Regions from separate parts of the Homo sapiens genome. Here region 1 is linked to region 2. The links come from fine-mapping of genetic effects on gene expression. A gene starts in region 2. The other region holds a variant in brackets. All regions are shown on one strand. Distances are between the middles of the regions.

Region 1 (16,472 bases), 64 kb after region 2:
GCCTGAAATGAAGGTGTCAGCAGGGCTGTGCTCTCTCTAAAGATCTAGAGGAGGATCCTTCTTTGCCTCTTCCTAGCTTCTGGTGGCTACTGGCCATCCTTGGCCTTCCTCAGCTTGTAGATGCATCACTTTGGTCTCTGCCCCTGTTGTCACATGGTATTATCTCTGTGTGTCTGTGTCTCTGTCTCCAAGTTTCTTTCTTCTCATAAAGACACCAGCCATATTAGATTCAAGGCTCACCCTCATCCAGTGTGATCTTATGATCTCATATTAACTTGATTATATTTGCAAAGATCCTATTTCCAAATAAGGTCACATTCATGGGTTCTGGGTGGACATGAATTTTTTGGGGGTGGTCACTATTCAACTTAGTACATGAGAGGACCATCCTGGTCTGGTTCATCAGGGAGAGCTTCTTTGAGGTAACGCTGTCTGAGGTCACACCTGCACAATGAATGGGAATTTATTAGAATTCTGGGCCTATATGAAGGAATAGTATTTCAGTCAGTGGAAACAGCAAAGAGGCTCTGAAGGGGCCCATTCTCACTTGTTAACAAGAGAAACAAAAACTGGAGCTAGGCTGGGCGCGATGGCTCAAGCCTGTAATATCAGCACTTTGGGAGGCCGAGGCGGGTGGATCACGAGGTCAGGAGATCGAGACCATCCTGGCTAACACGGTGAAACCCTGTCTCTACTAAAAAAAAATACAAAAAATTAGCTGGGCGTGGTGGCAGGCGCCTGTAGTCCCAGCTACTCAGGAGGCTGAGGCAGGAGAATGGCGTGAACCCGGGAGGCGGAGCTTGCAGTGAGCTGTGATCGCACCACTGCACTCCAGCCTGGGCGACAGAGCAAGACTCCATCTCAAAAAAAAAAAAACAAAAACTGGAGCTAACAGGAGGGAACACTTACTAAGTACTTTATGCCAGGCATGGTTGTAAGAACGTTAGAAAACACGGCATACAGAATGATAATGAAACTGCATCAAAATATGTGGAATGCAGTCAGAACAGTCCTTCAAGAGAAATTTATAGCTTTAAAAGTTTATTTTAGTAAAGAAAAAAGGTTTGAAATCAATTATCTAAGTTTCCACCTTATGACATTAGAATAAGAAAGTGAATTAAACTCGAAGTGAATAGGAGGAAAAAAATAATAAAAAATAATATGAGACATTAACCAACTTACAAGTTGGTTCTTTGAAAATATTAACAAAATTGCTAAACTCCTAGTGAGATTGAGCAGGACAAAAAAACACGAATAACAAATATCAAGCATAAAAGAGGAAGATCCCTACAGATATACAGAAATTGAAAATATAATAAGAAAACATTATGAATAACTTTATGCTGATCATTTCGATAATTTACATTAAATGGAAAAAGTCTTTGAAAAATACAACTTCCCAAAACTGGCACAGGAAGAAATAGAACATTTGAATCACCCCATATCTTTAAGGTCCTAAAAAGAAAATTCCAGAGCAAGATGGCTTCACTAGTAAATGTTTATCAATCATTTAAGAAAGGTAATATTGATTTTATATAAACTCTTTTGAAAGAACAAAGGAAGAGAGAACACTTTTTAATTTATAATTCAGAATAATCCTGATACCAAGAAATAAAAAGGAAAGAAAATCACACACCTATATTTCTTACATAGGTGCAAAAATTTTAACAAAATATTGGCCAATCAAGGTCAGGTGTAATGACTCATGTCTGTAATCCCAGCACTTTGGGAGGCCGAGGCAGGTGGCTCACCTGAGGTCAGGAGTTTGAGACCAGCCTGGCCAACATGGTGAAACCCCATCTCTACTAAAAATACAAAAATTAGCCAGGCAAGGTGGTGGGCACCTTTAATCCCAGCTACTCAGGAGGGTAAGACAGGAGAATTGCTTGAACCTGGGAGGTGGAGGTTGCAGTGAGCTGAGATTGCGCCACTGCACCCAGCCTGGGTGACAGAGTGAGACTCCATCTCAAAAAAACAAAAACAAAAACAAAATTGGCAAATCAAATCCAGCGACATCTGAAAGAGCAAGATAGCATTACCAGGTGGGATTCTTTTTTGAGGAATGCAAAATTGGCTCAACATTTGAAAATCAATCAATGTCATTCACTACATAAACAGAATAAAGAAGAAAATTCATATGATTCGTATGATCTCAGTCAATGCAAAAAAAAATTTGGCAAAATTCAACACCCATTCATAATTTTGAAAAAAAGCCTTTATCAACTATAAAGGGTATGATTTTCCTCAGCTTGATGGAGCATCTACAAAGAATACAGCTATCATGGTTGTAAAATCAAAGTAACTCATTTTGTGCATGGGACTTTAAAAGTGTTAAATGAAATATTGAACAAATATGTGATACCTGGAGATACATGACCATTTTGCAACCATGGGACAACAGTCATCCTGATAAGAGCCAACAATAAATACGATGGAACTGAAAGATAGAACTGTTTGGGTCCATGATGGCATCATTAAACCGCTGAACTAGTACCAGTGACTGTGTCTACCCCCTGACTTCTTATTAGGAGAGAAAAATAAGCTCTTTATTTGTTTAAATTTCTTTTGGTTGGATATTCCATTACTTGTTGTTAGGTCTTTAAAAATATTTGTTGACTGGTTGGGTGACTTGCTCAAGGTTATAAAACTAAATGGGAGACAGGATGACTTAATGTAAAAAGTACCAAGCCGGGAGGCAGGAAACCTGAATCCTTATCCTCAATAGACTGTGTAAGCTTAGAAATTGTAGTTTGCCTTACTGGTCCTCACCATCCATATATAATTTGTAAAAGGAAAGGGGTTTGTGGAGATGGCTAAGCTGACCTTTAACGTTCTTTCCAGGTCTAAAATCTATGATTTCTAAGAGGCAAAAGAGAAGACTAGAAGTAAGATTTTCCCTTTCTCTCTTCTCCTTTCCCTCCCTGCTGTGGTCTGAATGTGCCGCCCAGTTTTCATGTGTTGAAACGTAATGACCAATGTGATTAGCATTAAGGGGTTCTGCCTCTCAGCATTAATTAAGTCATGAGGGTGGAGCCCTCATGGGTAGGATTAGAGACCTTATAAAAGGGCTTGAGGAAACGTGTTTACTCTCTTCTGCTCTTCTGCCCTGTAAGTACTTAGCACTCAACCCCTTTCTGTCTTTCCATACCTTCTGTCAGATGAGGATACCTATATAGCTCAATCTTTGAGGAACAGGTTTTTACCAGATAGAAAATGTGCTTTGGACTTCCCAGCCTCCAGAACTGTGAGAAAATATATTTCTGTCCTTTATAAATTATCCAGTCTGTGGTACTTTGTTATAGTGGCACAAATGAACTAAGACAGTCTCTTCTTCTCCCTCTTTTTTTCCGTCCTTCTCTTTCTTCTTCTTCTTCTTTTTTTTTTTTTTTTTTGAGATGGAGTCTAGCTCTCTCACCCAGGCTGGAGTGCAATGGCACATTCTCAGCTTACTGCAAGCTCACCTCCTGGGTTCACGCCATTCTCCTGCCTCAGCCTCCCGAGTAGCTGAGACTGCAGGAACCCACCACCAGGCCCGGCTAATTTTTTTGTATTTTTAGTAGAGACGGGGTTTCACCATGTTAGCCAGGATGGTCTCGATCTCCTGACCTCGTGATCCGCCCGCCTTGGCCTCACAAAGTGCTGGGATTACAGGTGTGAGCCACCATGCCCGGCCTCTTTCTTCTTAAGAAACAAAACATAAGGACCAGGCACAGGGGCTCATGCCTATAATCCCAGCACTTTGGGAGGTGAAAGTGGGAGGATTGCTCGAGCCCAGGAGTTTGAGGCTGCAGTGAGCTGTGATCGCACCACTGCACTCCATCCTGGGTGACAGAGCAAGATCCTGTCTCCAAAGAAAACTTAAAAAAAAAAAAATCAAACATAAGATAGAAGACCTCTTTCCTTCTCTTGTTGAACTTGAGATTTCTTTGTAACAGTGTATATGGGAATGTTGATGAATGGAGTAGGGCAGATGAACAACCATCAATATCTAAAACCCAATTATGATTTCTCTTTAATTATCTTTCTAGAAAACCCTCTAACATGGCAATTGCTTGAAATTCTGCTCTCCAAATGTTTTAATCCATCATTCCAAGGAAGCTAAATTGGCTCACCTGTCCCTCCTGGCTGTGTGTGGGTGTTTGGGGAAGGTAACCATGCTAGATGTCAGGAAACAAAGGAATCCTGCAGCGCTTGGAAATGGGGAGTTCTCTTACTCTTCCTTGGACCTGTTTGCTTTCCAAGACATTCATGCACAGACTATTTTTGAGTGGCTTGGCTAATAATCCTATATATTTACACAGCCTTTGTCTTCAGGAAATCATGTCACTTTACAGGCATGGTCTCATTTATGAGCCCAGCATTCCTAAGGCAAAGGGATTTTTATTTCATGGTGTTTTGTTGTGGAGAGAAAGAGAAAGTGACTTGTTCAAAGCAACATCAAAATCCAGGGTTTCCTCCAAATTTTTTTAAAAATTATTTATTTATTTATTTTTTGAGACCAAGTTTCACTCTTGTTGTCCAGGCTGGAGTGCAATGGCGCGATCTTGGCTCACCATAACCTCTGCCTTCTGGGTTCAAGCGATTCTCCTGCCTCAGCCTCCCGAGTAGCTGGGATTACAGGCATGCGCCACCACGCTGGGCTAATTGTTATGTATTTTTAGTAGAGACGGGGTTTCTCTATGTTGGTCAGGCTGGTTTCGAACTCCCGACCTCAGGTGATCTG[T/C]CCGCCTTGGCCTCCCAAAGTGCTTGGATTACAGGCGTGAGCCACAACGTCTGGCCCTAAATCCTGGGTTTACTCCAAACTTTTCTCATCAAAGCAGAGTGATCAAACTGTACCATAAAGGAGTCACATGGGAGATGGGTAATTGAACACACAAACACATGCACACACACACACACACACAAAACACACACACACGTAGGCAGCAGACATAGTTGCTTTTGCTGCTCGGGCCCCATCACTCTAGTTTTGGTAACAGTACCTCAGATTTCTGAAGGAATATACTCAGGTCATATTTGGTCCATTTGGGTCAGAAATTATGACCCTGGCCTGGTTAAGCAAGGTAATTTTGTCTCCTGATCATGATGACTGGCACGAGTCAATGTTGTTCTGATTAGATAAAAGCTCCATTTTTCAATATCAGCTTCATCTGTGATAAAGATGATACTTTGGTTTGTAAACCCAGAAAATCAGAGACAAGTCTCAGTTAATTTAGAAAGTTTATTTTGCCAAGGTTGAGGATGTGCGCCCATGGCACAGCCTCAGGAAATCCTGACGCCATGTGCCCAAGGTGGCTGGGGCACCGCTTCATTTTATACATTTTAGGGAGACATGAGACATCAATCAATATATGTAAGACATACATTGGTTCCATCCAGAAAGGTGGGGACAACTCAAAGCAAGGAGGGGTCTTCCAGATCACTGGTAGGTGAGAGAAAAGGGGTTGCATTCTTTTGAGTTTCTGATAAGCCTTTCTAAAGGAGGCAATCAGAATATGCCTCTATGTCAGTGAGCAGAGGGATGACTTTGAGTAGAATGGGAGGCAGGTTTGCCCTGAGCAGTTTCCAGCTTGAATTTTCCCTTTGGCTTAGTGATTTTGGGGCCCCAAGATATTTTCCTTTCACAGGTTTTCATATAGTTTTTGTTTCATTTCTAAAATTATTCAGACTTAAGCAGGAAGCAGTGGGTAGTTTATTGGACACCTTAAACCTCTCTCTGTTCCTTTCTCACACCAGATAACATACCATTCTTCCTCTCACCATCCTTCCCTACTGCACCATCACCTTTAAGTTAAGGTTGAAATTCCTGAGCAAATCAACTGCAAATCGATGAGGTGACCAGATGTCATGGACAGGATGGCTTCACACTAGTCTCCTTGGCATGACACCCCAAGGCCATGGTTAAGTTGCTTTCAACTTTTAAGCCTGATGTCCAGACACTTCCCTATATATATTTTCGCTGTGTTCTAACATGTTTAATGGACTATTTGCTTGTTTCCCAATTGTGCCTTCTTTTCTTTTCTTTTCTTTTTTTTTTTTTTTGAGATGGAGTTTCACTCTTGTTGCTCAGGCTGGAGTGCAGTGGTGTGATCTCGGCTCACTGCAACCTCTGCCTCCCGGGTTCAAGCAATTCTTCTGCCTCAGCCTCCCGAGCAGCTGGGACTACAGGCACGTGCCACCATGCCTGGCTAATTTTTGTATTTTTAGTAGAGATGGGGTTTCACTATGTTGGTCAGGCTGGTCTCGAACTCCTGACCTCATGATCCGATCAGTGCAGGGCTTTTCTAAGTGCCAGCCATCTGTGACTGACTGCACAGGTCCCACGCCCTAGAAGCAGCTCTGTAGCTACCCCAGGAAAATGTAGCCCTATGGCCTTGACTGTAGAAGCCTCTGCTGTTGCCCAAGGCTGTGGGCTGGCCTGAGCAGCTGGGAGGATGAGTGGGGAGTGTGGGGCTTCAGGACAGAGCTTGAGCCTTGATACTTGCCTGACTTTCAGTCTTACAGAAACCACAGTATTACAGACTTTTCCATGTTGTTGTTACAAAGATATATAGATTTAATATATAGATTTAAAAATAAATGCAAAAAAGTAAAAATTAGAGGGGCTATAACATTTGATTTACTAGTTTATCTGAATTTATCATTTTAAACATCTTAAAACATGGGTGTGTCCTCTTAGCCCTGACCCTCCAAATGTTTGTGGCAATCCCAGAGTGGAGAACGCAGAAGGAATGAATAAACCTCCTGGAAGAGGTGGCATGAGATGTGACTGAAGACACAAAGAGAACGATAAATGTGAAGAGGAGGAAGGATTCCTCTTTTGTTAAAAAAAATTGTGGTAAAATACACATAACATAAAATTTACCATCTTAAATTTATTTATTTATTTATTTATTTATTTAGAGACAGAGTCTCTGTCACCCAGGCTGGAGTACAGTGGTACAATAGTAGCTCACTGTAACCTCAAACTCCTGGGCTCAAATGATCCTCATGCTCCAACCTCCCAAAGTGCTGGGATTACAGGCGTGAGCCACCGCACCCTGCCCATCTTGATCATTTTTAAGTGTACACTTCAGTAATGTTATGTGTATACATATTATTGTGCCACCAATCTCCAGAAGTTTTTCATCTTGCAAAACTGAAACTCTGTACCTGCTAAACGACTCCCCATTCCTCTCTCTTCATCCCCCGGCAACCCTCAGTCTGCTTTCTGCCTATAAATTTGACTACTCTGGATACCTTATATATGTGGAACTCTACAGCATTGGTCTTTTTGTGACTGGCTTATTTCAATTAGCATAAAGTTCTCAAGGTTCATCTGTGTTGCAGCATGCGTTGGAATGTCTTTCCTCTTTAAGACCAAATAATATTCCACTGTATGGATATACTGCATTTTATTTACCTATTCATCTGTTGATGGACACTGGGTAGCCTCCACCTTTGAGTATTGTGAATAATGCCACTATGAATATGGGTATACAAATGTGTCTTTGGGACTCTGCTTTTAATCCTTTGGATGTATACCCAGAAATGGGGAATGTCTTAGTCCATTTTGTGTTGCTCTAACAGAATACCACAAACTGGGTAATTTATAATGAAATTTAGATTTTAAAAGAAACAAATTTATGGCCGGGCGAGGTGGCTCATACCTATAATCTCAGCACTTTGGGAGGCTGAGGCAGGCGGATCACTTGAGGTCAGAGGTTCGAGACCAGCCTGGCCAACATGGCGAAACCCTTTCTCTACTAAAAATATAAAAATTAGCTGGGCATGGCGACACACACCTGTAGTCCCAGCTACTCAGGAGGCCGAGGTGGGAGAATCGCTGGAATCCAAGAGGCGGAGGTTGCAGTGAGCCAGATCGCACCACTGCACTCCAGCCTGGGTGACAGAGCAAGACTCTGTCCCAAAAAAAAAAAAAAAAAAAAAAAAAGAAGGAAAGAAAAAATGTATTATCTCATGATCCTAGAGACTGGGAGGTCTAAGACCAAGGGGCTGGCAGCAGGGACATCACATGGGCAGCAATCACAGATCACAGAGACACAGAGCACAGAAGGCTGGAGACTGGTTGGAGTTGGGGCAGTGGGAGGGAAGGGTGGGCTGTTTCATGTGCTGGATTTGGAAGAACAAGTAGAAATAACCAGACACAAAGTTCCAATTGTAATGACAATGCATGAAGTCCTCAACCTGGACTTCCAAGAACTGAACCATTAGTCACTTATGAGACATTGGGCAAGTTATTACTTTTTTTTTTTTTTTTTTTTTTGAGACAGAGTCTCACTCTGTCACCCAGCTGGAGTGCAGTGGCACAATCTTGGCTCACTGCAACCTCCATCTCCCACATTCAAGCAATTCTCCTGCGTCAGCCTCCCAAGTAGCTGGGATTACAGGTGTGTACCACTACACGCCGCTAATTTTTGTATTTTTAGTAGAGATGGGGTTTCACCACGTTGGCCAGGCTAGTCTCAAACTCCTGACCTCAAATGATCCACCCGCCTTGGCCTCCCAAAGTGCTGGGATTACAGGCATGAGCCACTGTGCCTGGCCATGTTATTACTTTTTTAAGCTCCCATTTTCTCAATGGTAAATGGAGATAGCATTATCCACCTGTTTGGATTGCTGTGAGAATTAAATGAAATAATCCAAATGAAGTGCTAAGTACAAAGCTTGATATGTAATAAGAATTGATACAAAGTCCACTGTGAATCATTATTAAACCGCGCCTCCTAATATGATAGTGGATGGTAAGTCAAGGGAGAATAACACATCTCTATAAATGCCCTTCCTAATCAAACTATGCTACTTGTTGGACAATTAATGTACATTGCTAACGAGTCTCTCTTTCACTCATGTCATTTGCTCCATAGTTGTTTGGTGATCCAAATGTTCTTCATGTCTGTACCATCCTAAAGGTGTCTTCAGATTCGAATCCAGTGGTCAGGGGCTGTGCCTACCTGGGTTTCCTCTTACTTGGCCTAGAGCCCAGGACAGCTCCGGTAGCTGCAGTTTCAGAAAGCACTTTAGAAATGAACAAGCTCACCCTGTAATCCTAGCACTTTGGGAGGCTGAGGCTGGTGGATCACCTGAGGTCAGGAGTTTAAGACCAGCCTGGTCAACATGGTGAAACCCCATCTCTACTAAAAAATACAAAAATTAGCCAGGCGTGATGGTGGCTGCCTGTAATCCCAGCTCGAGCAGCTGAGATGGAAGAATTGCTTGAACCCGGGAGGCGGAGGTTGCAGTGAGCCAAGATCATGCCATTGCACTGCAGCTTGGACGACAGAGGGAGACTCTGTCTCAAAAACAAAACAAACAAACAAAAAAGAAACGAACAAGCTCAGAGTCTCCTTGTCCACTAAGGGAGATGGAGGGCAGTGTATGTGGCTTGCCCCACACCGACAGCAGCATAAAAACGATGATGAGCAAGGCAGCACGTCTGCTTTCTTTTTTTTTTTTTTTTTTTTTTTTGAGACAGAGTCTTGCTCTGTCGCCCAGGCTGGAGTGCAGTGGCGCGATCTTGGCTCACTGCAAGCTCCGCCTCCCGGGTTCATGCCATTCTCCTGCCTCAGCTTCCCGAGTAGCTGGAACTGCAGGCGCCTGCCACCACACCTGGCTAACTTTTTGTATTTTTAGTAGAGACAGGGTTTCACCATGTCAGCCAGGATGGTCTCGATCTCCTGACCTCATAATCCACCCGCCTCGGCCTCCCAAAGTGCTGGGATTACAGGCGTGAGCCACCATGCCCGGCCAACACATCTGCTTTCATAGTTATCCTCTCAGCAGCTGGGGGACAGGCAGAGACAGGAGTTACTGTCTTTCAGGGCCATGCTTAGTCAGTCCTATGAAAGTTTCCCAGATACACATACACAGAGGGTGTCAGTTCAGGCTCAAAGGTGGCCTCCCAAAGCTGACCACCCCCTGGGAGTGACCTGTGTGTACAGCTGGCTTCCTGCTCCCCTGCTGGGGAAGAGGCTGTTGTTTGTTGTGTTTCTAAACAATGCTTTCAGGGCCGGCTTCCTCAGTGAGGAGTCCACTGCATCGTGACTTGGATCAAGAGGTCTGTGTTTTCTTTCTGCCCTATGCTTTAATATAATTATCATAACTGAAAAGGTAATGTAAGAAAGTTAATTAGAATATTAACTATACTCTAACAAAACAACTTGCTTGTTTTTTTTTTTTTTTTGGTATGTCACTGGCCACCTGAATAGATCACTTTACATTTTTGCCATTGTGGCATACTTCAATCTACAAGGGCAGTGAATGTATTTATTTTGGTGCCCTTTCATTACTTGGTGCTTGGTGCAATACTTGATACATAGCATGTGGCCAACAAATGATTATTGAATAAATATTTTTTTTTTTTGAGACAGAGTCTCGCTCTGTTGCCCAGGCTGGAGTGCAGTGGCATGATCTTGCCTCACTGCAACCTCTGCTGGCCAGGGTTCAAGTGATTCTCATGCCTTGGCCTCCTGAGTAGCTGGGATTACAGGCACTCGCCACCTTGCCTGGCTAATTTTTGTATTTTTAATAGAGATGGGGTTTCACCATGTTGGCCAGACTGGTCTCGAACTCCTAGCCTCAAGTGATCTGCCCACCTTGGCCTCCCAAAGTGCTCAGATTACAGGCATGAGCCACGGTGCCTGGCCTGAATGCTATTTTTTAATACACTGCTTTCATTGAGTGTAATAGGAACATTTCCCTATGCTTCTAGAGTAAAAACAATTATAATTTTTAATGTTTCCGTACCAGCAGAGAATCATAATTTATTAAAGGTTTCATTTAGTTTGAATTTTGACTGTTTCCTTTGCTGTTTTTACTATTGTAGATAATATTATCATAAAAATTTGCATGCACATTTTTTAGAACCTTTGAAATTAAGTGCCTTAGAATGAATTCCCAAGAATGGAATTACTGCATTTGGGAGGTGTGGACAATTTTATGATTCAGTGTGTGTTTCTCAAGGGTTTGCCCTCTCTACAGAACATATTCACGGGATATGTTCTAGTTAACCATAAAAGGCACAGAGGCCATTTCCAAAGGCCCCTAGCTGAGATCTCTTTGAAGGGTCTGAAGACATTCATTGGAGCACTAGCGGCCATCTCCGTTAGGTGGAACAGAGTAGATCTTCTGGTTTCTGAGTAATAAAGTAGATTATTAACAGAAATGATGCCTTTCCTCTTAGGTCCTGAAGCAAAATCCAAAAATGTGGCCTACCATAATGCAAAGTCTCTGAGAGGCAGCATAGCTCCAGGCAGTTCGTGCTTTGATGTTAAATGAAACTGTGTGATCGTAAAGCCTAAGTGAGACCTCTATTAATAGCTTTGATTGCTTCTCTAACAAACTGTCACAAACTTAGTGGCTTAAAACAATGCAAGTTTATTACCCTACAGTTAGGTTGACATGGGCCTAAAAGGGTCTCACCAGCCACAAGGCTGCATACCCTTCTGGAGGCTGTAGCGGGAATCTGCTTCCTTGCCACTTCCAACTTCCAGAGACCACCCTTGCCACTTCCAAATTCCAGAGATCGTTGCTTGGTTGCTGTTTGGGCCTCTTCCTCCATCTTCACAGTCAGCAAAGGTCAACTCTCTCTTCCCAAAGCCTGGAAAGTCTCTCCGATGTTAAAGGACTCACGTGATTACATTGGGCTCACCTGGGTAATCCAAGCTAATCTCCCATTTCAAGGTCCTTAACCTTAATCAATCTGTAAAATCCCCTTTGTTATGTAAGGTAATGTATTATAGGATCCAAGGATTAGGTCAGGGACGTGCGTGGGAGTGAGAGAGGTGGAGAGAGGGATTATTTTGGCTACTACAAGACCTAAAATGGGAATATATTTCTTTAATTAAAAATATATGCATCCTAAGAAAGACATAATAGACTTCGGGGACTCAGGGGGAAAGGATAGGAAGGGAGTAAGGGATAAAAGACTATAAATTGGGTTGAGTTAGACTGCTTGGGAGATGGGTGCGTCAAAATTTCACAAATCACCACTAAAGAACTTACTCATTTTACCAAATAGCACCTATTCCCCCAAAACCTATAGAAATAAAAAATTAAAAATGTATATATATGCACCCATGGAACATATAACATTATTTATCCACTTATATAACAAGTGACTAAATTGGGTGAGTCAAGTATTAAAATGAGCTCAGAGAACTCTTCATCCCCTGGAGGCATTCAGAGAAAGCTCTCTGGGATACCGTGCAGCCTGGCTGTCCATAACCTGTGACCCCAGGGCCAGGCCTGCCTCCCTTCTTCAAGCTCGGCACAACTGCCTGCTACTGTGGGAAGGTGGGGCTAGGGCAGAGGCATGACCTGGCATGGCGTCAGGCAGAGAGAGGGGATGAGAGTAGGAGCGAGGCCCTCAAGGTGGACCTGCTTAGAATGTCTCTGGTTCCTAGGCTCTGTGTGCAGAGCTTCCTTTTGCAAGGACATCTTCCTCCTTGGTGGGCCTCATCCATCCGCCTCCCCAGAGTATTGGATTTTTCTCGCCTAGATCTTGTATTTAGCAAAAGTTCCCCTAGAGAGGCTGCGTGATGAATGATCCTGCCACAGTTGTAGTGTGTGTGTGTGTGTGTGTGTGTGTGTGTGTGTGTGTCTGTGTGTCTGTGTGTCTGTGTCTGTGTGTCTTGGAGTTGCAAGACTTGGTTAGCTGAGGCTTTTGTTTTTCACTTGTGACTAACATGAATGGAAGTGTAATACAAACAAGGATAAGGAGAGCATCTCTCCCAGAAGCCTGGAAGTTAAGGGTGTGGGTGGAGAGAAGCCACTGAGCTCCGGAATATGGAACTGAGCGCAACACAGGCAGCAAGTGGCTTTCTTTTGGGATGCTATGATGGGCTCTGACCTGGGATTCAGGACCCACTGCATTTGACTCTGAATCCCAGCTCTTCGCGAATCATGAACGCATGTTGGCACCAGATCCTCTTTGAGCCCTCCAGTGAAGCCTCGGACTCACCACTAGATGGCGTCCGAGCTCGCGCTCTCCACCGCGGGGCAGCAAGGCGGCAGGAAGCGGTCCAGAGGTGCCTCAGTGGCCAGGGACAGGGAGGTGACAAGAGTCGCCTCCATCAGACACGGCCACTCCCACCCCTGGTTTTGCCTGATTCCATTGGAGTATCCATCAAGACTAAACTAGAAAGTTTTTGCTTCTCCATTCCCTGGGTCCAATCCTAGGGAAAATGTGGTCCTTTTGTTTCTGGGGACTCCCAAAAGGAAACGTGCACCTTCTCCAGTAAAAACTAATTTGTTTTGTAATTTATTTTGTTTATTTGTTTATAGGAAAAGGAGAGGCATACTAAATTGGGCTTGAGTTTTGGCTCTTACTTTCTAGGCAAAGTCCTCTCCGGGCCTCAATTTCTAGTTTATGAAATGAAACTAGAAATCCATCCCTGCCTCATGAAACTGCCTGAGTAAAATGCAGTAATGCTGTGTCATGTGTGTGGCACAGTTTCTGGCACTTAGTAGGCGCTTTATATCTTACTTCTATTCTAGGTGAATTGGAGCTCTATTTATTCACCTTTACATGTTCTTGTCTATCACAGCGCCTGACATCCTCCATGCAGAGGAACAAACTCACTAATGGAATTTGCAAACATTGATCTTCATCAACTATTCTATTACTGAAACACCAAATTTTGTGGAGGATTCAGAAGATTATATTACAAACTGTTGCCCACAGGGTCTAACAAAATAACTGGAGGAGACAAGATTAATGAAAACACATTTAACAGTGAACACAGAAGCTACTAAATGAAAAGTAATTAAAAATGTATGATCGGTCGTGCATGGTGGCTTATGCCTGTAACCCTAGCACTTTGGGAGGCCGAGGTGGGCAGATCATTTGAGGTCAGGAGTTCAAGACCAGCCTGGCGAACATGGTGAAATCCCATCTCTACTAAAAATACAAAAATTAGCTGGGTATGGTGGTGGGCACCTGTAATCTCAGCTACTAAGGAGGCTGAGGCTGGAGAATCACTTGAACCTGGAAGTGGAGGTTGCGGTGAGCCGAGATTGTACCATTGCACTCCAGCCTGGGCGACAGAGGGAGACTCTGTCTCAAAAAAATAAATTAAATAAAAATGTATGATATTGGCTGTTTATAACTAAGTTTATAGCTCCTCAAACAGAGCTCCGTTTCTTGAATTCTGACATTCAAGAGGCGAGTTGACATCTGGATTATTTGTTGATCATAGGCTGTATGTCAGATCCTAGAAGTTTTTATGGGAAGAAGAGGATGAATTTTGCAACGGGGATATTATTATGTCTAGAAAGCAAGCCTGGGAGCCGGTAGACCTCATGAGAGCTTCGAGCTTCCAAGTATGAAATAGAGGTGCCTGGAGACAGGAAAAAGGAGCCCCAAAAAGGAGGCGAAAGGACACTGAAGACAAAGTTAGCTACTGCACCATTCGGTGAATGATTTCTTCCTCATTCAGAGTGTGAATAACTCATATAATTATAATCTGGAAGCTACCTTAAACGTGTTGTGGCTTGATCTTGCACTCAATATAGGAGACTTTATATCGTATCTTTGACTAAAGGCATCCAAATCACAGCTTAAACACTTTCAGGGATGGGAATTCATTCCCTCGGAAGAAAGCCCGTTTCTTCATTAGACAGTTCTAGTTGTCATCATTCACCCCAAATTTCCTCTAGCTCCCCTTAAGGGTGCTAGTTCTGTGAGTTTCATCCCTCTCCCAGAGGTCAGTTCTTCAAATAGCCAAGAACTGCCATTGTATCTTCCTTAGCTTTTTCTCTCCAAATGTCCCCGCTGCCTACAAATATTTGTCAAGCGGCCCCTTGCCCCTCGTAGACCACGCTGTTTGGAGCAAAAGGAGCTCAAGGGGGCATCTTCCCCCTTGGCTTCCCGGCTACGTCATGACATGGCACTAGATGGCGCTGTGACCACGGCCCCACCCAGGTATTCCAGGTACTCAAGAGTGACTTGAGGGTTTCCCTAAGAAGCCAGTGCCAACCTCATCTTGCCCCATATGCCTGTCTTCCTCAGTGACCACCAGAAGTCCAAATCCAGCCTCTGGAGGGACTCAGTATCACCTTCACTCTCGTTCCCGACCTCTGTGTCTGTCTGATGAGGGTATCTGATATTATGTCTATCCAGTACCCTGCACTCCTGCTTTTTTGAAACAGGGTCTCGCTCTGTCACCCAGGTTGGAGTGTAGTGGCACAGTCACTGCAGCCTCGATCTCCTGGGCTCAAGAGAGCCTCCTGCCATAGGCACGTGCCACCACGCCTGGCTAATATTTAATTTTTTTGGTAGAGACGGCGTCTCCCTATGTTGCCCAGGCTGGACTTCAACTCCTGGGCTCAAGCGATCCTCTGCCTTGGCCTCCCAAAGTGTTGGGATTACAGGTGTGAGCCACCATGCCTGGCCTGCCCTCCTCTTGATGTCAGCAAAGCAGTTTTCCTTTGAAGGGCCACTTCCCCGCTTGCCAACATGTGATTCTGGTGGGTTCTGCCCACCCAGAGTGGCCACTAGAGATGCAGCCTCACTAACCACCATGGATGGCTCAGGCTGAAATTTCCCTGGTGCCATAAGGGAGGTCCACACTCCCCAGGGTTGTTGGGCCACCATCTGCTGCTGCATGGGGAGAGGCTGCCTGGGAGTGTGGCCAACACAGAGGACAGCAAGGCAGGGAGACCAAAGGAGAGCCCCTGGAGGACATGGCTTGGGTCCCTGAGCTGATCAGCACTGAAGCCAGCAAGCAGCCCCACTACACTTCCAGTTATATGGACAAACACATTCTCTTCTCTTTTGCTAAATCTAGCTTGAGTTGGATTTCTGACATTTGAAAATGGAGAGTCCTAATATAATCCCTAACCTGACTTGATCTCCCACGCCTCCTCTGGGGTGGAGGGTTGCACATTTTTATAATCCCTAATCTGACTCGATCTCCCACGCCTCCTCTGGGGTGGAGGGTTGCACATTTTTATAATCCCTAACCTGACTCATTCTCCTACGCCTCCTCTGGGGTAGAGGGTTGTATATTGTATTGTCCTCTCTTGGAGCACTTACGGAGTGATCAGCACATTCTCTGGTATTCTTTTTTTCTTTAAAGAGACAAGGTCTCACCCTATTGCCCAGGGGGCAGTGCGATCATAGCTCACTGCAGTCTCGACCTCCTGGGCTCAAGCAATCCTTTTGTTTTAGCCTCCTGAGGAGCTGAGACTACAAGTGTGCACCCACCATGCCTGGCTAATTTTTAAATATTTTGTAGAGACAAGGGTTTCACCATGTTGCTTAAGTTGGTCTCGAACTCTTGGCCCTAAGTGATCCTCCCACCTCAGCCTCTCAAAGTGCTGGGATGACAGGCGTGAGCCACGTACCCGGCCGTGTAGTCTCTCTTTCCTGCTACCTGCTTTTGTTACCTGAAATCTGGCTCCTTCCTTCAGGACACTGGTTCCCCTGCAGCCCTCTCAGAAGGGTGGAGTTTTCCCCCTCACCTTCATGT
Region 2 (16,472 bases):
GTGTGAGCCACTGTGCCTGGCCTTATTTCTAAATACACACATAAACTCTTAGAGTCACTGATAAATCGTTCTACTTAAGAAGAGAGAGAAGTCTGGGCACGGTGGCTTACACCTGTAATTCCAGCACTTTGGGAGGCTGCGGCAGGATCCTGAGGTCGGGAGTTCGGGAGCAGCCTGACCAACATGGAGAAACCCTGTCTCTACTAAAAATACAAAATTAGCAGGGTGTGGTGGCACATGCCTGTAATCCCAGCTACTCGGGAGGCTGAGGCAAGAGAATCGCTTGAACCCAGGAGGTGGAGGTTGCGGTCAGCCAAATCGTGCCATTGCATTACAGCCTGGACAACAAGAGCAAAACTCAGTCTCAAAAACAAACAAACAAACAAACAAACAAACAAACAAAAAAACGAGAGAGAGATCAGGTGGGAAGGGAAGGAGGGAGGAAGGAAATGAGGAGGGCAGGCAGGATACGGCCAAAGAATGGGCTTAGACTTGTGCTCCAGCAGAAGCTGCCAGAAAGGCAGGAGTTCTCCAGGTGGATTTGAACCCTACAATGGCCAAGGGGCAGCCTGGAATGATCCTAGTGGTGATACCCTAACACAGCTACAATTGCAAATCTCAACAGGTTGTACTCCCATCCCTAGACGTTTTAAGGAAAGGAGCTACTTAAATCTCATAACTAATCTGTGATTATAAACTGACTCTTTCAAATCACAGATTATTAACTGTGTTCTTTCAAATATCTCTTCCAAACCCCCTCATGGTAGAGAAAATCAATATCCAGTCCCAAGATCTTGAGGTGTAATTGAAGCAGCCATGTTTGGGCATGAAACGTATTTGAAATCTCCTGCTTTGCCTTTAAATTCATGCATTCTTGCTAATGTTCTATTCTTGATGTAGTAGCAAGGGCATGTTCACTTTGTAAAAGTTCATCCATAACAGGCATTTGTACACCAATGTTCACAGCAGCATTATTCCCAGTCACCAAAAGGTGGAAACAACTCACATGTCCACCAGTGGAGGAGGAGATAAACAAATGTGGTCTATCCATACAGTGGGATATTATTCAGGCTCAACAAGGAAGGAAATTCTGACACAGGTTACAACGTGAAAAAACCTGGAAGCCATGCTAAGTAAAATGAGCCAGACACGAAAAGACAAATATAATATATTCCACTTATATGAAGTACCTAGTTCAGTCATAGTCACAGAGACAGAAAGTAGAATGGGGGCTGCCAGGGATTGGTCGGAGGGGGAGAGTGGAGTTAGTGTTCAATGGGTACAGAGTTTCTGTTTTGGAAGATGCAAAAGTACCAGAGATGGCTGATGGTGATGGTAGCACAGCAGTGTCAACACACTTAACGCCACTGCACTGTACACTTGAAAATAGTTAAGATGGTGAGTTTTATGTTACGTATATTTTACCACAATAAACACAAAAGCAACCCAAAAAGCCTATGTGGGTATATACTTAGGATCATGTGATTTTACCTAGATATGCTATTCTTGGGGTGGGTGAAATCATCTTTAGAAATATGCTTTTCCGGCCAGGCACAGTGGCTCACGCCTGTAATCCCAGCACTTTGGGAGGCCCAGGCGGGTGGATCACGAGGTCAGGAGATCGAGACCATCCTGGCTAACACGGTGAAACCCTGTATCTACTAAAAATAGAAAACATTAGCTGGGTATGGTGGCGGGCGCCTGTGGTCCCAGCTACTCAGGAGGCTGAGGCAGGAGAATGGCGTGAACTTGGGAGGCGGAGCTTGCAGTGAGCCGAGATCGCGCCACTGCACTCCCAGCCTGGGCAACAGAGCAAGACTCTGTCTCAAAAAAAAAAAAAAAAAAGAAAGAAATATGCTTTTCCGTGGGCATAGTGGTGCATGCCTGTAATCCCAGCTACTCGGGAGGCTGAGGCAGGAGAATCTCTTGAACCTGGAAGGTGGAGGTTGCCGTGAGCTGAGATTGCACCACTGCACTCCAGCCTGGGTGACAGAGTAAGACTCTGTCTCAAAAAAAAAAAAAAAAAAAAAAAAAGAAATGTGCTTTACTCAATTTTATATTTGTAATTGTTTTAGAAAGATATTTAGAAAAGTATCTTTCTCACTACATCTTCGAGTCATGCAGGCACTCTGAAGAGCTATACTGTGTTTACCTTGGTACCCCAGTGGTATATCAGGACAAGCCTGGGGGCAAAAGAAGTTCATGGATCCAAGTTCCAGAAAGATATTATAAAGAAACTGCAAATTAAGTTGTTCACAAGTCATCACCATAAGTTATCTTGTCGTAAGTGTATGTTTTATAGGCAAGTGGCATCATTTTTGCAGAAGATACCCTCAGCACTTTGTTGGCAACACATCAAGGAGGATATGTCTGTTGCCACAGGACATCCAGAGGGCCAGCTGTGTCTGCTTGTCTGACGTGGATCGTAGGAATGAAAAAACTAAAAAGAAAACATCACTCTTTGCTTAGAAGACTATAATTAAATATAATACTTAAGGTATCCCAAGTGAAGGGATCAAAAGCCCTGGACAAGAAGAACCTACTAACTGTGTTCCTAACCACAACCTCAGCATCTGCTGAGTTAGTTCTTGTTCTCATCTGCCACACACACTACTTGCCTGGTAATAGTATTTCTGCCACAGAAAGTGCAAAAGATTTGTTAAAACTCTGGACAGAAGTCTGAACTACACAGTCCCCAGCATCCTTTATCATCATCAACCAAGTGGCTATTCTTTCTTTGTTTTTGAGACAGGGTCTCACTCTGTCACCCAGGCTGGAATGCACTATAGCCTTGACCTCCTGGGCTCAAGCAATCTTCCTGCCTCAGCCTCCTGAGTAGCTGGGACTATACCATGCCTGGCTAATTTTTTTTTTTTGGTAGAGACTGGGTCTCCCTATGTTGCCAGCTATTCTGAAAAGGCGCCTAGAGACGTCCCTGACGCTGGTCACGGTAGAAGGGCTGCCAATACGCTTGGCCAAGAGGTGCTCCCTGCTGAGCAAGCACTGCATTGGACAGCAGTGGGTGCATGTGTGGAATTACTCAGGTGAGAGATTTCTGATGTCTTGCTTCAACTTACACAGGACTGAAGACTTAAGAGACTCAGCTGTGTGTTGCTCTGGTTGCATCTCTGTGAATGTCTGGTTGGCCCTTCCTTTTCTAGCCTGCAACTGCTATTCCCGCCTTGTCTGTGGGCCTAGAGCAGAGTGGCCTCGGGCCACTTCATCTGAGGCCTCATGGACCACCCAGGGTGTGACTGCCATGCAGACCGACCACAAAAGCCTTTCTCCAGGGGGAAATGGACGATGACAGTAACAAGCTGCTCTTTTAAAGCCAGGCAGCCCCTGGGAATGGGAAATCATATCTCCTGCTGTGGTTTGAATAGGTGTCCCTCCAAAAAATTCATGTTGAAATTTAATCCCCAATGTGGCAGTTTTGAGAGGTGGGGCCTTTAAGAAGTGGTTGAATCATGAGTGCTCTGCCCTCATAAACTGATGAATCCATTCACCAATTAATAGATGAATCGGTTATCATGGGAAGGGAATTGGTGGCTTTACAAGAGGAAAAGAGACTTGAGCTAGCATGTTATCATGCTCAGCCCCCTCACGATGGTCCTGCATCACCTTGGGATACTGCCAAGTCCCCACCAGCAAGAAGGCCCTCACCAGGTACAGCTCCTGGACTTTGGACTTCTCAGTCTCCATAACTGTAAGAACTAAATTCCTTTTGTTTAATAAACTACCGAGTTTCAGGTATTCTGTTATAAGCAACAGAAAATGGACTAAAACACCTCCTAAGGCTCCCCAAACTTTAAAATGAAGGAAGCAGTCATGCTTGTGCAACTGCAGCTGCTGGTGTGGAATCACCTAGAAATTCTTCCTCCATGGAGACAGCCTATTAGCTAAGGAAAAAGAATCTATGGCCGTCAGAAGGCAGGGTGATTTAAGGTTAATGTCTTGCCACTTCGGAGTTCCTCCCGTTGGATGGAATCGGGTTGACCAGTTTCTCTGCCTCTAACTGGCTATTTTATGGAAGGTCTGTTCATTCCCTGTTTCAAAGCAACAAGCGTAACAGCAGAACATCTAGGAGTCCTGTGCCAAGAGATTCCTTTTTCCCACATGATCTGCCAAGAAAGGAGAATTCCAACTTATGAGTCTCATTAACAAGGTGGAGAAATTTCTTCTTCGCTCCATTTCAAAAGCAAATAAACTTAAGTAATGAAAATGCTAAAAGCAGAAGGCTCTGGTGTTGTATTAGTCTGTTCTCATGCTGCTAATAAAGACATACCCGAGACTGGGTACTTTGTAAAGGGAGGAGGTTTAATGGACTCACAATGCCACATGGCTGGGGAGGCCTCACAATCATGGCAGAAGACAAAGGAAGAGCAAAGGAACATCTTACATGGTGGCAGGCAAGAGAGCATGTACAGGGGACTCCCATTTATAAAACCATATCTCACGAGATTTACTTCTCAGGGGAAAGATCTACCCCCATGATTCAATTACCTTTCATCGGGTCTTTCCTACAACACATGGGAATTATGACAGCTACAATTCACAATGAGATTTGGGTGGGGACACAGCCAAGCCATATCAGGTGTTGCATATCTTCATTGGTCAAATGCAGAATAAAGTCATGCATAAACTAAGGGCTTCAATGGGAAGCCTATATACCCCTACTTCTCTGTCATAGGATTTGAGGGCTTCAGCATGAAGGTACCAGCTGTCAGAGTACTCAGGTGATGCTCAGAGAGGGGAGATTGTCCTCTACTAGATTTCTTTCTGGGGCCTTTGTTTCTTCCAGGAATCCCAGCAACAGTCATTTCACTCATCCTATTTTTACACCTTGGAGTCAAATAATGAGGAAGTACACTGCTCTCTAGTTCAGAGAGGGCAGCTCTGAGCCCTTACAGTTTTGCAATGAGCTAGGAAACAAACCCTGGCTTCCTGATTTTGCAGTTCATTTATCTCAAGCACCAAATGTCCAATTACTAATATTTACACAGGGATTTCTGACAGCAGGTGTATAGGAAGTGATAAGCCCAGGATGAAGCCTGAGCCAAGAAGAACTCTTCAGAGAGCAGCTGAGAGTCCACGAGTAACATGGAGAACCAGAACCACCGAAGCCCAGCCATGAGGAGGCTGGGTTAGACCCTGGCTCCCTGGGTCACCAGCTGTGCCCTCTGGACAGCTTATCTGTTTATCCATTTCCTCAGCTGAGAAATGAATTTGAAAATACTCACCTAACTCTTTAGTGGGACCTTGTAAGAATCAAATGACATAGTGGACAGAAAAGTAGTTTGAAAGGAAGAACATAACAATAGGAATGTAACAAGTTACACAAATCAACAGAACTCAGATCAACTATAAAAAAAGACATTTTGAGGAAAATTGGGAAATGCTTAAATATAGACTGCTATTTGGCATTAGATGATACCAAATATTTTTTTTTTAGTTTTCTTAGGTCTAAATATGGCATCATAGTTATGTAAAATCTTTAGAAATCACACTGAAATATGTAGCAATGAAATGACATGATGTATAGGATTTGCTTTAAACTACTTCAATGACAGAAACAAAGGGACAGATGACGTACATGTGGCAAAATAACTGTTGAAATTCAGTGAGAAGCTTATGAGGCATCATTATACCCTTCTCTCTACTTTTTTTGCATACTTGAAATTTTTTGAGAATAAAAAATAAACAATGTAGTGTTTTCTGGGACTCAACACCTTCGCTGATGGTCATGTCTATCTAGAGCACAGAAAATCTGTTTCCTTCACAAAGCCCTTCCACACTGGCCATCTAGAGGTCAAAGGACAAGGACTTGGGAAGAGGCCAGGAGAGGCCAGTTGGAAAGAAAATAAAAGGAAGCATCTTTGCAGAATCTCCTATCTGTGATACTTAAAATGTCAGCCAATGTGTGGTGTTAAGTACGTTTTGTTTTCAGACCTGAGTTTCATACTCAACTTTGCCACTCAATGCCTAAGTGACCTTAGACTAAGTCACTTTCTAACACAAAGTTACAGGGAAGCAAATGCACATGCATGCACAAACACACATATACATATACACACGTGCACACATGCGTGCACACACATACACACAAGTGCACAAACGCGCACACACACATACACATGCAAACATGCACACAAACACAAATACACATATACACATACAGGTGTGCACACATGCACACAGGAATACATATGCACACACATTGCGTGCACACACACGTGCCCGCGCACACACACCTGTGTGCGCATATAAACACACACCGGTGCACACACATACACAAACACACTCGTGTGGAGACACACACATGCACACATACATGTGCCCACACATACACGTGCACACATGCATACACAAACGTGCGCGCGTGCACACACAGATTAGTGAGACTCAATTTCCTTGGGGAGAGCCTTGGTAGCCACTGGGGCCCATGGGGAGCACGCATCTTGTCATGGCTCTGGTGGCCATTCCAGGGCAGATACTAGGGACCAGGAAGAGGAACGGGACAAAGGTGAGGAGAAAGATTAAAAATTTAGTCAAGTTAGGATCCAGTGAGTCAGTCACTTATCTGGGAACTGACCAGGGAAATGAACTCTTCCTCTTCCACCCTAAACCCCAACCCTGACCATTAAGTACATGATACACCATCAATAACTAATTCATTCCACCAAAGATGACAAATGTTGTTTTGGGGTTCCAGGACGGACAGGCTAGCAGTGGTGTAGGGGAGGGGCCTGGAGTAAGAGGTATGGGTTTCAGTCCCCACATTGACTAACTCAGTGACCGTGAGCCTCAGCGTTTTTCTTCCTCTGGGAGAAAAAAAAAAAAAGTATTGTTTTTGAGATCTCTGCAGTTTCAAGATCTTAGGGACGAAACTAATTTGGAGCATGTTTCTGTCATGCACATCTCTCCCCTCATCAGGACTTGGGGTTTCCTAACCATATTGAGTAGTTCAGCCCCCTCCCTCGCCGTGTTCTGCGGTGTTCTCTTCCTCACACCCTCGCCCCGCTCCGCCCCGCACTCCGGCTGTTTTTTGATGGTCTTAGCTCGGGCACGGAGAGGAGGGAACCTCGCTTGTTCTCCCAATCATCTCTATTCCAGCGCTGATTCCTGGGACACCTCGAGCAGGCAGCCACACCCAGAGGGCTTCCAAATTTGGGCTGGTGAGAAGGGGCGCGGTGGGCAAAGCGCCTGCGTAAAAGTTGTAGGCACTTCAGACCACCGGACCAACGGCTCAAGATTGGGATCAGCTGTAGCCGTGGGTTCGCTCGTGCCCGTTCTTTCCAACTCCAGGGCTTCTAGGTGATGAAGGCGGGAGAGGGTCCCTGGTCCCCGGAGAGGCAGGGCGACTTGGGAGTGCATACCTGGCGTGCCGAGAGCGCCTCTGCTCCCGCAGGACTCACGGCGCTCCCGCGCTCCCAACAGCCTTTCGAGCAGGCTGGGGGTTGAACCGGGTTCAAGCAGTGGACGCTACAGCTCCCGGGCGCAGCCCCCGGGGTCCCCGCCCCCACTCCGTCCCAGCCCAGCACGCTCTACATCCCCAAAACCACAGCCCCGAGGGCAGTCACTGTCTCCCGACCCGTCCCCCGCGTGCCCCACTCCTCAAAGCCAGAATTCCGGAGACGCTGTCCCTGGAGCCACGCTGCACTCTCCAAGACGCCCAGCACACACCGAGACTTGACGGGCTCTGTCCCGCCTGATTACGGGCGCTCGGGACGATCCAGGGACCCAGCGCCTCGCTCCCCGGGCGCGCCAGCAGCCGCGCCGCGCCCGGCCCGTACGAGGTGGGGTTGGGCGGGGCCGCCCGGGGCGGCAGGAGGACCCGTTAGCCTGCACGTCCTCGCATCGCTCCCCGCAAGAAGTCTTTGGGAACCCCCAGGCACTGTCGAGAGGCAGCCCCGCGCAGGACGAAGCCTGGAGACCCCATAGGGACGCTCCCGCTTTCTCGCGAACCGCTTCGGGGAGGGGGTGGCGCGGGAAGCGCTCTTACTTGGTTTCAGGGATCCGCAGTGGCCGGGCTGGGACCGCGCTCTCCACGGTGGTCCCCCTCCGCTTCCGCCGCCGCTGAGCCCCTTTCTCGAGCAGAGGGGGCGGCTCTGGTCTCCGATGGCTGGAGAAAGCAAGCACCAAGCGTAGGTAGCCGCGCGCTGGAGTCGCGCGTTTACTCTTTTCCCCCTTACTTTTAACTAGAGGAGGATGGCAAACCCCTCCCCGGACCCACCCCCTTCCCCGAAGGCGGCCGCCGCAGCAGGCCCGGCCTCCGGCCTCTTTTGTTGTAATTCGAGAGCGGCCACTCCCAGGGCCAGAGGGAGCTCCGCGGGGGAGGCCAAGGCCTGCGGGGCAGCCCTTCCCAGGCTCCTCGCGCCCGGGTTTCCGGAGCCTGAGATGCCGGGAAGGGGGCCTTTCCTCGGGAGATTCCTCTACCCTTTCCTCCCTGCAGCCGTCCCAGAATTTAACCCTTCGATGTCCTTATCCACCAGCCTTAGGGCCCGTGCCTTGTCCACCTCCTATCCCGAAAACCCTGGCCCTCCTTGGCACATAATACACGCTCAATTAAAGCTGCCGAATGAAAGTGTTCAGAAACTTGCACCCATCTCGCCTGGGTTTCACCTCCCTTTTCCTGTAGGGGGAAAACCGATCCTGAACCAGTAAATAAACAGCCCCCTTTCGGCCAGCAGATCACGTCTATGGCCTTGGCCAAGCCTCTTCTCCGAGGACTAGTTTTCTTCTTTGTAAATTCAACGCTTTGGATTCCGTGACCTCTGGGGTCCTTCCTGGAATGGTAGGGCTGGGATTAACAAGCCCTGTGCTTGGGGACTGAACAGGACACAGCTAATGCGTGGCCATTGTGCAGAAGGACCTCCTGTGCCTGGCTCTGAGGCTCCGGGTGGGGGATGGGCATGCTGGGAGAGCCCTCTGCACAGAGAGGGCTCCTTAAGCAAGAGCAGGGCTTTGCCAGTCCCAAGGAGGCAGCGAGCTGCAAAACAAGGGACCCCTGTGCAGAAGTAGACTGTCACCTGAAAGGCGGCTCCTTCCTCAGTCCTCTCTTACTCCACTCCCTGAGGAGACAAACCCCTCCCAAATCTCACCTCCAGCCCAGGCTTCTCTCCTAAGCCATGGATATTTAAATCCATTGGCCCCGAAAGACTTTCACCTGGACATTCCCATGGCCGTAGCTAACCTGGCAAGCCCCAAACTTGGCACTGCAACTCACGGTCCACCTTGACTCCTGTGAGCTCTCCCAGGCAGATATGGGGTCTTCTCCGTTGCCTCCTCCTTACCCTCCCCACTGATCAGTCCCTGACTCTGGTGGGCAGTAGAGGGCAAGGGTCAGAGGAAGGGGGTGTAGTTATCAAAGGCAGGAGGAGGGATCTTTGTGGTGGTGGAACTATTCAGTGTCTTGAGATACAGAAAACCACACAGGTGATAAAATTGTATAGAACGTAATACACCCAATAAAATTTCAATTAAAAATTTAAAAAAATCCTCCGTGGCTCCAAGGTCCTCAAAATGTAATCTGAATCCTGGCTGGGTGCGGTGGCTCATGCCTGTAATCCCAGCACTTTGGGAGGCCGAGGCAGGCGGATCACAAGGTCAGGAGATCGAGACCATCCTGGCTAACATGGTGAAACCCCGTCTCTACTAAAAATACAAAAAATTAGCCGGGCGTGGTGGCGGGCGCCTGTAGTCCCAGCTACTCGGGAAGCTGAGGCAGGAGAATGGGGTGAACCCGGGAGGCGGAGCTTGCAGTGAGCCGAGATCCCGCCACTGCACTCCAGCCTCGGGGACAGAGCGAGACTCCGTCTCAGAAAAAGAAAAATGTAATCTGAATCCCTTGATTAAGCTGACAGGGCCTCTGGGGCATTTCCAGCCTGCCCAACTGCCAACCACATCTCACCTCTCCCCCTGGGCCTTACTTTCTGTGCTCCTATAAGCCTTCTATTTCACACCCCAGGACCTTTGAACGTGACATTCCCTTGGCTTCTCTGCACAGTAATGCCTGGTTATTGAGCTTTCACTCAGCTGTCACACCCTACACAGTGCCTGGACGTACCAGATGCTCAATAAATGCTGGTGAAACTGAGCTCTCCCCTTTCCCCATCTCCCATCCTTCCACTTCTAGTCCTACCCTCTCTTGCTAAAGCATTCACTAATAAGGTAGAAAATGAAAGGAGACCAACTTTGTAAATAATCTTTTGTCTGTTATAAAGAAAAGCAAACTTCTTGTGAAATATTCAGAAAATATGTAAAATGTAAGGAAGAAATTGTCACTCTGGTGTCTTATCACCCATAAACACCTACTGTTTGGAGTCTTTCCTTCAGAATATTTGTTCAACCAAATTGTAGTTACAGTTTTTGTATCCTGATTTTTTTTTTTTTTTTTTTTTGAGACAGACTCTAGCTCTGACTCCCAAGCTGGAGTTCAGTGGCGCAGTCTCGGCTCACTGCAACCTCCCCCTCCCAGGTTCAGCTTCCCAAGTCTGTCTCAGCCTCCCGAGTAGCTGGGATTACAGGCATGTGCCATCACGTGTGGCTAATTTTTGTATTTTTAGTAGAGACAGGGTTTCACCATGCTGGCCGGGCTGTCCTTGAACTCCTGGTTTCAAGTGATCCACCCACCTCTGCCTCCCAAAGTGCTGGGATTACAGACGTGAGCCACTTCACCTGGCCTCTGATTTTTTTTACTATATCATTTTGTGTTAATTTTTCAATGTAATTTTTAATGGTTTTAGACAGTTCTGGTCTGAAATTATTGTGCAATGGAGTCATTTCTCCATTATTGGATATTCAGTTGTTTACAGCTTTTTGCTAGTGTAAATTACGCCATGACAATTACCCCTGTGAAAGTAATATTTATTGATTGGGTACAGTGTGGTTCCTGCTAATTGTTACAGATGAGAAAGCCCTGGCTCAGAGAAGTGATTTTCCCAGCGTCACAGAGGCAGGGAATGGCCGAGCTGGGAGAACCAAAAGGAGCTTGACTCGTCCAGCAAGTATTAGTGGCCCACACTGGAGGCCTCAGTAAGTCCATCTCTGCCTTACCATGTCCTCACTTCCAAGAGGAAATGAGTAGAGTATCTGAAGTTTGCACTGAGTGTTTTATTGATGCCCTTTTGTTGAATTGAAATCAAGACCTAGGAGACTACTTCAGGACAACAGTAGACCCTTGTCCCAGATGAAACAAAATGATGGCGGGATGCCTTATGTCTGTAAGTCTGGATACACCTCCCACCCTGCCACCTCCACCACTCAGGTCCTGCACTGCTGCAGAGGCAGAGTCGTACAGTAGGTTCAGGGCATGCTTGTGCAGTCAGGGGGCCTGGGTTCAAATCTTGGCTCCACCATTAACTGATGTGAACTCCCTTTTCCTTCACATGCTTCATCTGTAAGAAGCGCCTCAAAATGCTCCTAAGAGGTTGAGTGGAGTGGCTTAAGCTTGTAATCTCAGCACTGTGGGAGGCCAAGGTGGGTGGGTTGCTTGAGTCCAGGAGTTTGAGACCAGCCTGGGCAACATGGCAAAACCCTGTCTCTACAAAAAATATAAAAATTAGCCAGGCGTGGTGGTATGGGCTTGTAGTCCTAGCTACTTGGGGCGCTGAGGCAGGAGGATCACTTGAGCCCAGGAAGTCAAGGCTGCATTTGAACTGAGATCATGCCACTGCACTCCAGCCCGGGTGACAAAGCGGTATCTGTTAAAAAAAAAAAAAAAGCTCCAAAGGAGTAAAAGGACTGAATGGGCTCAGACTCAGAACAGTCCCTCGTATGGTACTTGGACAATAAATGTTGCGTTGTGAGGAGGGCATCTTTGAGGAGGGCACAGTGACTCCTTGTCCCTCAGGGCTTCAGACCCCACACAGGGAGAGGGAAGGCAACACCTCCTGTCCACCCCATCCCCAGGGGTCATGTGAATTACTGCATTAGGATCCATTCCCAGAATGTGATTACTGAGTCAAAGGCTAGAGGCGATTCTTTCTTTTTTTTCCCTTGGCTTTTGCACTCTCTTGCCAAATCACTCTCCTACCAGTCTGGACCGACTTAGATTGAAAGAAGCATAGCATGTCCCAGTAGGCATAGCCTGAGGCTCCAGGGAGGCCCAGCCAATGCTGTAGCCGGTCTGTGCCTTCATGGTGCTTATATGCCAGAGTAGGAGACTGACAAGACACAAAGACACAGAAATGAGGAAATGTGGGAGTCGGTTGGTGACAGAGTGCTACAGAGAAGACTAAAGCTGGTGAGCACAGAAGGTGAAGGAGGCTCAGGTGCTAGTCCAGTAGGGGTGGCCAGGGAAGGCCCGTCTGATGAAGTGGGAAAGTAGGAATAATTTTAGTAGGTATTAGTAATGATTACTTAGATGAATAAAAATGCAGAAACGAGTAGTTAAATTTATAGAACTGCAGAAGAGGCTCCATATGGTCTATTTGTTGAATTAAATGGGGAACCAATCAACCAACCAAACAAACATTGATCCAGCCATCTGGGAAGGTGATTTGGAAATATTGTCACGTGCCGCATAATGCCATTTCAGTCAATGATGGTCCAGGTATATGTTGGTGGTCCCGTATCACTTGGTGGTCTCATAATGTTATAATAGAGCTGAAAAATTTCTCTCTCCTATTGACGCCATAGCTGTTGTGACATTGTCATGCAATAAATTATTCATGTGTTTGTAGTGATGCTGGTGTAAACAACATACAAGCTGCCAGTCATATGACAGTCTAGCACATGTCACTACGTATAGTACATAATAATTGATAATGATAATAAATCACTATGGTACTGGCTTATATATTTACTATACTATACTTTTAATTGTTATTTTAGGGTGTACTTTTACTTATTAAAAAAAAAAAAAAGCTGTCCGGGTGCAGTGGCTCATGCCTGTTATCCCATCACTTTGGGAGGCCAAGGCAAGCGGATGACCTGTGGTCAGGAGTTCGAGACCAGCCTGGCCAATACGGTGAAACCCTGTCTCTACTAAAAAATATAAAAATTAGCCCAGGCATGGTGGCGGGCGCCTGTAATCCCAGTTACTTGGGAGGCTGAGGTGGGAGAATCACTTGAACCCGGGAGGTGGAGGTTGTAGTGAGACGAGATTGTGCCACTGCACTCCAGCCTGGGTGACAGAGTGAGACTCCATCTCAAAAAAAAAAAAAACAAAAAAAAACAAGCCTAACTGTAAAACATCCTCAGTCAGGTGCTTCAGGAAGTATCCAGAAGAAGGCATTGTTATCCTAGGAGATGACAGCTCCATGTCTGTTAACGCCCCTGAAGACCTTCCTGGACCAAGATGTGGAGGTGGAGGACTGACATTGATGATCCTGACCCTGTGCGGGCCTAGGCTAATGTGCGTGTTTGTGTCTTCGTCTTTAACAAAAAAGTTTACAACACAGACAAAAGTAAATAATTTTTAAAATAGAAAAAAAGCTTACAGAATACTAAAGAAATTTAAAAATTTGGTACAGCTGTACAAAGTGTTTGTGTTTGAAGCTAAGTGTTATTACAAGAGTCAAAAAATGTTTTAAAAACTAAAAAGTTTATAAAGTAAAAGAGTTACAGTAAGCTCAGGCTAATTTATTATTGAAAAAATAAGTATTATGTATAAATTGAGTGTAGCCTAAGTGTGCAGTGTTTATAAAGCCCACAGCAGTGTACAGTGTACATTCACTCACCACGCACTCCCTGACTCAGCCAAAGCAACTTCCAGTCCTGCAAGCTCCCTTCATGGGAAATGCCTTCCCTAAACCGGTCTATCTTTTTTGTTTGTTCTTTGTTTTTTGTTTTTGAGACGGAGTCTGGCTCTGTTGCCCAGGCTGCAGTGACGCGATCTTCGCTCACTGCAAGCTCCATCTCCCAGGTTCACCCCATTCTCCTGTCTCAGCCTCCGGAGTAGCTGGGACTACAGGCGCCCGCCACCACGTCCGGCTAATTTTTAGTATTTTTAGTAGAGACGAGGTTTCACCGTGTTAGCCAGGATGGTCTCGATCTCCTGACTTCGTGATCCGCCCACCTCGGCCTCCCAAAATGCTGGGATTACAGGCGTGAGCCACCGTGCCTGGCCTTATCATTTTTTTAAATTGTATCTTTTCTATGTTTAGATATGTTTAGATACCCAAATACTTACCACTGTGTTACAAATGCCTGCAGTATTCAGAACAGTCATATGCTATACAAATCTGTAGTGCAGGAGCAACAGTCTATCCCATATACCCTAGGAGTGTAGTAAGCTATATCACCTAGGGTTGCATAAGTACATTCTGTGATGTTTGCACAATGACAAAATCGCCTAATGACGAATTTTTCAGAATGTATTTCCTCGTGTCATTAAGCAATTAACGTTGGTATATGTCAAGGGGTGGGTGTTCGATCTGGCCTTGGGAAGGGGATGGTCACATAGATCACATATTCCAGTGTTCCTGTGTTGGCCAGATATCTATCAGGTCCTATGATGTGGCTTCCGTGTTTCTCATCATTCCAAATCTGAGCATTCTGTCACAACCACTTTTGATGAGTGTGGTTTCATCAGAGGAGAGAATGCGGAGGAGGAGGAGAACTCCCGCCTCCTCCGAGGAAGCAGCGCCCCTTAGTGGTCTGTCTCTCACACGGCAATGTGCGCTTGCTCTCTTCAGGGCCAAGCTATACCAATGGGGTTGAAACCCTAAAATTCTAGAGATTTAAAGGGTTAAGATCTAAAGAGCCGCCAGGTAACTTGAGAAATTGTGCTCCAAGCATCTTGTTTACAGACATGGAACCAGAGGCCCAGAGAGCTGTCAACCCGAGCACCTTCCCTAGGAGGCTTTAGCAGGGGTGCTGAGACCAGACCCAGACCAAGTCAGCTAAGCCCCAGGAGAGTTCCAAATCTGCTCAGAAAGTACAATTGTAAATTGCATATGTATGCAATCAGGAGTGGTTAGGACGCATCTGCCTTTTTCCCAGGAAACACAACGTTTTTACATTGAAAAGTGTAATTTCATTTAATCTATTTTCTAGGATGTAAAATTATTCTGTCAACCACAGTGTGCTAACTTCATCCCTTTCCTTTTCTTTTGCTTACTTTATTATTATTATTGTTATTACATATATTTTTTAAGACAGAGTTTCACTCTTGTTGCCCAGGCTGGAGTGCAGTGATGCAATCTCGGCTCACTGAAACCTCCACCTCCTGGCTTCAAGCCATTCTCCTGCCTCAGCTTCCTGAGTAGCTGGGATTACAGGCGTGCGTCACCACGCTCAGCTAATTTGTGTGTGTGTGTGTGTGTGTGTGTGTGTGTGTGTGTGTGTGTGTGTGTATTTTTAGTAGACATGGGGTTTCACCATGTTGGTCAGGCTGGTCTCTAACTCCTGACCTCAAGTGATTGACCTGCCTCGGCCTCCCAAAGTGCTGGGATTACAAGCATGAGCCACTGCACCTGGCCTTCTTTTGCTTAATTTATTATTAATCATCATCATTAACAGCCTGTTTGAGAGTATGAAACAGTTTACTTGGAGGAGCTCAAAGCTTCTCATAGCTTTCTCTAATGAAGAAGGCTATGCAGGGCAGTCCTGTGTATTCAGCAAAGAAGGAAATTCAGTCTGGGAGGGAGAAGCATTCCATGAGACCAGGTTACATGACTAACTTGCCCTTTCCATCACCCGCTTGAGTTGGGAGTGACTCAATCCCTCCAACAACTTCCTGTGCTTGGAGCCCATTTGGGGTCCAGTTCAGGGTGATGTCACTCAGTGCCTCCCCTGCTTTGAAGTGGGACCAGGATCAGTACAACTCAAGCAGCCTGGGAAGGTCCTAGTCATAATAATAATAAAAAAAGTGTGCTTTCCTCTCCTGGGGATTAACATATCTGAAATCTTGCAATTAGAAATTAGTTCCTTTGAGTGAACTACCAATACATGCAACACTGTTTTAGTCCATTTTCTGTTGCTATAACAGAATACCACAGACTTGGTAATTTAAAATGAACAGAAATATATTTGACTCATGGTTCTGGAGGCTGGGAAGTCCAAGGGCATGGCACTTGGAAGGGAGAGCAAGCAAGAGAGCAAGAGGGGGCCAGAGTCCCCTTTACAAAAAGCCCACTCTTGAAATAACATTAATTCATTCATGAGGACAGAGCTGTCATGACCTAGTCACCTCTTATCAGACCCCAACACCCAGCTCTGATGCACTGGGGGTTAAGTTTCCAACACATGAACTCTGGCGGACACATTCAAACCATAGCAAACAGTATGGTTGAATCTCAAACATATCAGGATGCCTGCCCCCAACTCTGACATGCACAAAAAAGCCAGCCACAAAAAGGAGACATACTGTATGATCCAGTCATAACTCTAGAAAACTCTAGAAAAGTCTAAACTAAACAGCAGGGACTGAAAGCAGATCACTGGTGGCCTGAGGCTGGAGGTGGGTGAGGTGGCCTGGGAAGGAGCATGAGGAAGCTTTCTGTAGTGATGGAAATGGCCTATTCCTT

The links. PIP is the estimated chance that this variant, and not a neighbour inherited with it, causes the effect.
Region 1: its variant is fine-mapped to the expression of LOXL2 in whole blood (TOPMed, PIP above 0.99).

The regions. Positions count from the first base shown.
Region 1 is chr8:23,459,555-23,476,026 of GRCh38, forward strand. The region is part of intron 2 of ENTPD4-DT (ENTPD4 divergent transcript); the gene reads left to right. Among named protein-coding and RNA genes, the nearest start is that of ENTPD4-DT, 10 kb to the left of the region's middle. RefSeq lists an enhancer at 9,674-10,173. The variant T/C (reference allele first, on the strand shown) is at 4,724.
Region 2 is chr8:23,395,952-23,412,423 of GRCh38, forward strand. LOXL2 (lysyl oxidase like 2) reads right to left here and starts at 8,169. Exons shown (of 14, transcript NM_002318.3): 1 at 8,003-8,169. RefSeq lists a silencer at 14,385-14,679 and an enhancer at 14,545-14,664.